2 linked regions of the Homo sapiens genome follow. The protein of the gene in region 2 interacts with the protein of the main gene of each other region in a pairwise test. Each region holds a gene or a part of one and is shown on either strand. Other genes may lie near its edges.

Region 1 (3,752 bases), on a different chromosome or scaffold from region 2:
GCACTCAGAGGAATGAAAATAAGAGGAGGAGAAAATTCTTTCCTGGAAGCCAGGCTGGCTTCCCGGGCTTGCGACCGGCCACGCTGTTGAGCAGACACCACTTTTCCTCTGTGGTGTCCCCAGTGCAGGTAAATCCTGTTCCCTGCTCGTTCAGAAATGCCATCGCAAGCAATTTCCTTTGCTGCCACGGTCTTCATAATTATCATCTTTAATGGCTGCATAATATTCCACTGGGCCGAGGTCCCGTCACTGAAAGTCACCCTCGATGATTGGGTATTCATGAGGGTTGCATTTTAGTATTGTCATTTGCAATGTTTGGAGGTCATGGATAAGGCTGCAAGAAACATCTTTGCTTTGTCTCCTTTCGGTAGCGGGAAGCCCTGGGGCTGGGGACTGGGAATTGTCAGGGCTCTGAGACCGGGTCCACAGAAAGGCTTCCCAGAGGGTCATGCCCACCTTTTTGGGCTGGTGCTGGTGGGGCGCCCCTGGGCTCCTGGGGGCCCACCCCTCAGCACGGCTCACACTCTCTCTCTGTGTCTCTCTCTGCACCGCGCCCCCGCCGATTCTGTGTCTCTATCTCTCTGTCTCCATCTCTCTGTCCCCCTGCCTCTCTCTGATTCTGTCTCTATCTTTCTATGTCTCTCTCTCTGTCTCCATCTCTGTCTCCCTGCCTCTCTCTAATTCTGTCTCTATCTCCCTGTTTCTGTCTCTGTCCCCCTTCCTCTCTCTGATTCTCTCTCTATCTCTCTACCTCTATCTCTGTCTCTCTGTCCCCTCCTCTGTTGCGCTGGTTGCTTCCTGGCTGTGAATGGCGCCTCCTCGCCTCCACCCCCGTGTCTTTGGCGGCAGAGGCTGTGCTCTCCTCATTCGTGCTCACCGGTGGAGCCCCCCAAGTGTGAATTTTCTCTCACAGCCTTGGCAGGGTTCTTGACTTTTGGGCACTCCTCCCTACAGAGGGGTGCAGTGCCTACCAGGCATCTGTGCAGGTGCAGGTGTCTGCCTTTCAAGGGCTCTGGGGGTGATGAGCCTGCCTCTCTTGCTTCAGGTCGGGAAACTGAGGCCAGAGGGGGCTGGGGCTTCCCTGGGAGCTGATGCCAGGCCAGGTCCTCCCTGCCCTGCTCCCAGCTGGATAGGGGGCAGTGTGGGGACCTCCTGCTGCCCTTCAGGTTCTCCCCTGCCCTGGGGTCCTTGGAGGGTACTGCCGCCCCTGCCCCTCACAGGGCAGGTGTTTGCATTTCCTGAGATGCTTCCCTGGCTCCCCGTGGTCCTCCAAGGACCCTGCCCCCAAGGGCTGAGAAGGGGGAGGGTGAGAGTGAGGGGCCTACATGGTCCTCAAGGATAACTCCTCCAGGGTCCCCCAAAGGGATGGGTGCCTCAGAGGTTCAGGGCAGGCCTGTGGGAGGAGTGGTTTGGGTGGATACTGCAGTGACTCCAGCAGCCGTGTGCCGTCCTCTACAGGAGATAACAGGGTGGCCATGACCACCTCCCCAAGTGGGCATAAATACTGCAGACAAGCAGAGTGCCCTGTTAATGATGTCTGGGAGGACACTGTCTGGACGGGTTCAATTATTTCAAAAGAGAGCAATTTTCTGCTATCGCCGGATCAGGTTTTTATTGCAAATAGGGTTGTGGCAGGAGCCGGCCATCCAGGGGGGTGGCGGGGAGGGGCGGCTTATCTTCAGGACCTGCTCTCAGAGAGTGGCTGTGGGAGAGGTTGTGCTTGCAGGCCCAGCTGAGCTGGGGCCCCGTCTCCTGGGGCCAGGTCACCTGGAATGTGGGCTCTGCGTGATCCCCAGGGTTAGGGAAGCCACAGAGTGCCAGGCCTGTCCTGGTGTTTTGGGGATGCTGCCTGGCAGGGCAACCTTGACTGCCTGTCCGTAGCAGGGCTGGGGCTGGAAGGGCTCTCTGGATGCCATTGACTCAGTTTCCACCCTGGGTGGGATAGAAACTCTGCTAAAGCCCAGGGTGGGGTTGGGGGTGGAGCAGAGCCCCCCAGTGACCTCTTGGACCCAGAGCCCGGGCTCTCCCACTGCCCGGCGGAAGGAGGCTTGTGCATTCGGGGTCATTTCCTGGGGCTGCACGGCCTGGGGCTGGCTGGCGTGCCCAGGGCCACAGCCCCTTGCCAGGCGACCCTGCAGCAGCATTCCAGGGGGCCCAGCCAGGTTCACTCCTCATGGGGAAACAGGCCTGGAGAGGCTTGGGCCGACGGAGTCACGCAGGGATGCAGGGCTGGACGCAGTCTCCCCCAGCTCCTGCCAGCAGCTCTCGCTATTCACCCCTCCTTGGCCTGGGGTCTGTCCAAGGGATGGTGGGAAAACAGTGTGTGTGTGCACGTGTGTGAGTGCACACATGTGTGAGTATTCCCCTGAGTGTGCAAGTGTGAGAGTGGGCACGTGTGTCAGAGGGCATGAGTGTGCACGTGTGGGGTGTCTGTGTGTGTGAATGTGTGCATGGAGGTGTGGCTATGTGTGCATATGTGTACTTGTATTTCTGTGCGTGCATGTGAATATGCATGTGTGTGTGTGTCCATGCATGTGCCCGTGTGTGTGTGTGAGTGTATCTGCGTATGTGTGGGTGAATGTGTGTGTGTTTGTGTAGAGTGTATGTGAATGTGCAGGCGTAGGCAGTGTGTTTGTGAGGGTGCCTGGCTGTGGCATTAACCATCTGTTGCTGAGCAGCATAACTTGGGGAGGACGCGACTTCGCCTTCTGGGGCACAGAGTTCTGCCGGAATGTGGACAGTCAGGACTTCCTACGGGACAGCACCTCCCCCTCTTCAGGTGTGGGCTCCAGAGCACCTTGTGTGACCACGTGTGACCTTAGGCAAGTCTCCTAATCTGCCTGGGCGTTGGTCTGCTCAGCTGTGAAATGGGGGTGAGGAGAGCAGCAGCCTCTGCGGGCTCGCGTGAGGGTGGGAGTCAGTGCACAGACCCGAGTCCGCACCAAGCCTGTGCTCTGTGCCATCAGCCACTGTTGGCATCACTCGGGGAGGGAATGTGCCCAGGAACAGAGCTCAGGTGGCTCTGGCTGTGTCTGGACAGTCAGGACATCCTATGGGATGACACCTCCCCTCCGGGAGCCCTGGGGCCCTCTCCAGAGATGCACCTTCCCCTGGGCCACGCTCTGCTCCCAGGCAGCCTCCCTGAGCCCTGAGGTCCCCTCTCCAGAGATGCACCTTCACGTGGGCCACGCTCTGCTCCCAGGCAGCCTCCCTGAGCTCCGCGGTCCCCTCTCCAGAGATGCACCTTCACGTGGGCCATGCTCTGCTCCCAGACAGCCTCCCTGAGCCCTGCCATCCCCTCCCTAACTGGGCTTCACGCTTCCCCTTCTGGAAGAGAGGTCTGGCTCAAGTCCTGGGCTCTGTCCTTCTTTGGCTCTGTGACCTCGGGTAAGTGGTGTGACCTCCCTGGGCCTCATTTTCCCCAGTGGAAGCAGGGAAGGAGTGGCTCTGGCATGCTCGGCAGGTGGGGGCGGGGAGGCCTGGGGCCTCTGGCAGGGACAGTGTGTAACTGGAGGCCTCGTGACAGATGGGAGATAAAGGGCGGAAAATAGCTTCAGAGCCTGGACCTGTAAGTGTCCCGCTAGGCCCGCTGCTGGGGAGGGCGCGTCCACCCGAGGGGACTCTACCCCCACTCTGGGAACAGGAACCCCATGGCGCCTCCCTTGGTGCTGGGGGGCTGGGGGGTTCTTACCAGCTCCTCTACTGAGAGGGGGCACCGAGCTCCCTGGCGGAGGGGAAACTGAGGCCCAGAG
Region 2 (3,752 bases):
CCTGCTCCATGGCCCAGTGGAGACACACTGGGCAAGCCCTTTCCCCTCCTCTGAGTCCACTTTTTCACCTGGAAATGGGGCCCAGTCATCCCCCCATCACAGGGTAAACCAAAGGGGATGGACATAGGGACAGCATCAGCCATGCCCCACGCCACCATGGTGGCTGCCTCCCTCCCCTATCCCACGACCCCAAAACTCTGCCCTCTTCCATCAACGTCCCCCAAGTTTTCCTCATTCTAAAAGGCCTTCACCCCATTATCCACGTTCTTCTTCCTGAAGCTTCCCATAATCACCCACTTTGTTCTTACAATACCCCCAAGAGGGGGCCTTAGCCCAGTCTTCTCTCTGAGGCTCCCCAGTTCCCAGCCTCCACCCCATCCTGCCCGCACTGGTCCCCAGCACCCCTCATGCCCCCACCACCTGTCCTCTGAGGGTCACAAGCTTCGAACGTGGAGTTGAGTATTTGCTCCTCCAAGCTGACCGGCATTCCCAGCCTTGCCTCCTCAGGCCGCTCCCGGAGGTACACTGGGGAGACAAGAGGGCTCAGCTCACCAGTGGGAAGAATAAGGAAGGAAGAGGGGTGACCCCAGGTCCTCAGCCTCCTGGGCTCTGTAGCGGGGAGGGAATTCACTCAGAGCACTGAGAGTTCGGGCGGGTGGGGAACAGCAGGAAGCTTCAGGAGGGGGCAACAATGTGAGGGTCTCTGAGTTACTTCCCCCCATCTTTCAAACCAGGAAGTCCCCCCTGCTGTCTTTTTGTGTCCAATTGGCTTAGGAGCCCAGAGAAGAACGCTCTGAGATCACCCTTTCCTCCTCTCCTCTCCAGCCTCCCAGGCTGGACTCAGAGAGGGACAGGGTCGGGGAGGGCAAAGAAGAGAGGATTCTGGGAGGAGCTGAGAGTGAAGGGGGGGCCCAGGAGCCAGGAACAATCCAATAATGCATGGGCAGCCCAGATCGATCCCGCCTGCTGCATCTCCGGTCTCCCAGCCCACCCTGGGGACCAGGTCTCTCTCCTCCCTGCATCCCTAAGGCAAGGGTGGCATCATTGGAGCCCATGGCCAGGGGCTGAGACATGAAGGGATAGGGTAAACCAGACAGGGTGGGCAGTGAGGGAATGGTTATGAGCTGGATCAGTGTGTCAGACCTGGGTGCAGAGTCCAGCTGCACATCTGTGGGCAAGTCTCTTCTGTTAGAGCCTCGGTTTCCCTACTGGGGGGGTGGGTAGAGTGATCCTCCTCACCAGGGCTGAGTTAGCTCTGTGTATGTGAAGCACACGCATGTACACACACACACACACACACACACACACACACACACACGTCCTGGGGTCTATTTGTCTACTGTTGTAGCCACAACACCTGCAGATGGCAGGTGCTCAACAAATGCTCCATGACATAGGAAGAGATCCTCAACTGCAGGAGCCACTGGGCTGGCCCAGCCTCTCTCCCAGGGCTGGAAGTGAACTTCTAGGCTCCCTGCCCTGGCCTTGAACAGCTGGGTGCAGCAGCTCACTGAGCACAGGCTGCAGGACGGGGTAGATCCAGGGGGCAACCGAGGCTTGGCCTCAGACAAGTGGTGGCACCTGGGGCAATGGACTCAACTTCTCTTGGGCCTCAGTTTCTTCCTCTGGAAAATGGGGTTGGTGTTACCTCTTTCCTAGAGAGAAAATGAGATACAATCTAGAAAGGCTTTGGCAGAAGGCCTGGCACGTGGTGGGGACTCAAGAATAGAATTGAACACTTATTGAGCATTTAGTAGGTGCCAGGCCTTTTCTGAGCACTTTACATGAACTGTCTACTAGCATAATAATAATCGATGCTATTATAATCCCTACTTTACAAATGAGGGGACTAAGGCATAGAGAAACTAAGAACTCGCCAAAGGTCACCCTGTTTAACATATGAGTCAACTTTCTCATCCCTCTAACTCTTCCAGGATTCTCTGCAGTGAGTGAAATTTGCACCCCCTCTGTCTTGAACCTATGCTCCTAGGTTTGGCCCTTGGGAAGGGGCGTGTGGACTCACAGTTAGGGGGAGACCAGGGCTTTAGCCCCAGTCTGTTTTCCTCCTCTCACTGTTTTTTTTTTTTTTGAGATGGAGTCTCGCTGTGTCACCCAGGCTGGAGTGCAGTAGCGTGATCTCCGCTCACTGCAACTTCTGCCTCCAAGGTTCAAGCAATTCTCCTGCGTCAGCCTCCCGAGTAGCTGGGATTACAGGTGCCTGCTACCAGGCCCAGCTAATTTTTGTATTTTTAGTAGAGATGGGGTTTCACCCTGTTGGCAAGGCTGGTCTCGAACTCCTGACCTCAAGTGATCCGCCCACCTTGGCCTCGCAAAGTGCTGGGATTACAGGTGTGAGCCACCATACCCAGCCCTCTCAGTGTCTTTCTCATGTTACATGAACGAGGACCCTGAGGCCCAATGAGATGGTTCACCCAGGGCTGCTTGCCAGAGAGAGCTAAGCTGGGAATAGAACTCAGGACTGGCATCAGGTCGTGCTGGCTCTGAGGATCAGCATGTGTCTGAAGTCGCATCCCAGGATTCCCCCAGGGAGATGTCATTTCTGTTCCTCAGGAAGATCTCCTTCCTCAGTGTCTCTATCTCCTCTATGTCTCTGTCCTTGCCTCTTCGTTACATTTCTCTTTGGCTCTTTCTCTCTATCTTTCTCCCAGTCTCTCTTCCCCACGTCCTGTCTCTCTGCCTCCATGTCGCTTGTCCCCGTTTTCTTCCCTGTATCTCAGTCTCTGTGCTTCCCTTCCCATATCTCAGAGACTCTCCATTCCCTAAGTCTTCTCTTTCCTTCCTCTGCTGTTTCTTTTTCCCTTTGCCTTCCTCTGTCTCCATCTCTCCTTCTGGGTGTGTTCCTACCTTTCCTTCCAGAGCCTCTCGAAGCTGTCTCAGCCCTTGCCACCCGGATCCTGGTGGCTGCACGCCCTCTGCTGGTGCAGGTGAAGTTTAGATGGCTGTCACTAGACAGCCTGTCCTCTGGTTCCCACACCCTGGTGTCTACCTCTGACCCTCCTATCTGGAAAGCCTCCTGAGGTCTGGGGCTTTGTAGAAAAAGACGCAGGCTGTGCCGTGGATGCCTGGGAGCCTCTAAGAAAGGGGCCCTACCATCCCCATCAGACTGGGCTCTCTCACTTGGCAGATGAGTTTCAGAGAGGCAACCCCAGTGCCTCCTCCCCACCCTCTGAAGCCAGCTTTCACACCCGTTCAACCTACATCCGTCCGTTCACTCAACAGTAAGTGAGCTCCCACAGTGAGTCAGGAGTTGCTCTGGGGTCCCAGCCAACAGGGCAGTCTCTCCTTCTGGAGCACCTGAACTGAGGCGAGTGTAGACTGAAATGCTCTGTTAGTGTAAAGTACACGCTAGATCTTTAGGGCTTAGTATGAAAAAAACAGATTATCTGGATACATTTTTTATATTGGCTATATATTGGCTATATACATATATATATCTCTATGTATGTATATCCTGTATACATATATAATATACAGGGTATTAGTCTGGCTATATAAGGAAAATCCATTATCAACATTCATTTCACCTGTTCCTTTTTTCTTTTAAAAAATAATAAATTACCTATGTGGCTCATATTATACTTCCACAGGACAGCGCTGCTCTAGGGACTGGGAATACCAGAGTGAATAAAACAGACGCTGCCTTGTGGAGCTCATGCTCTAGCAGGGGAGACAGAGACAAAACATGACATACAGATGTGAGCACTGTGAAGAGAAATGAAGCGGGGCAGGGG

Evidence for each region.
Region 1: the proteins of KASH5 (region 2) and C14orf180 interact in binary tests that used the Homo sapiens proteins (3 or more experiments, as listed by UniProt).

The regions. Positions count from the first base shown.
Region 1 is NC_000014.9:104,582,620-104,586,371, reverse strand, and holds part of C14orf180 (nutritionally-regulated adipose and cardiac enriched protein homolog), read right to left. Parts: intron 1-3,752.
Region 2 is NC_000019.10:49,391,249-49,395,000, reverse strand, and holds part of KASH5 (protein KASH5), read right to left. Parts: intron 1,656-3,752; exon of another isoform or gene 1,602-1,655; coding exon of another isoform or gene 1,601-1,601; exon of another isoform or gene 1,582-1,600; intron 1,525-1,581; exon of another isoform or gene 1,169-1,524; coding exon of another isoform or gene 1,144-1,168; intron 526-1,143; coding exon 421-525; intron 1-420. UniProt on the Homo sapiens protein: As a component of the LINC (LInker of Nucleoskeleton and Cytoskeleton) complex, involved in the connection between the nuclear lamina and the cytoskeleton.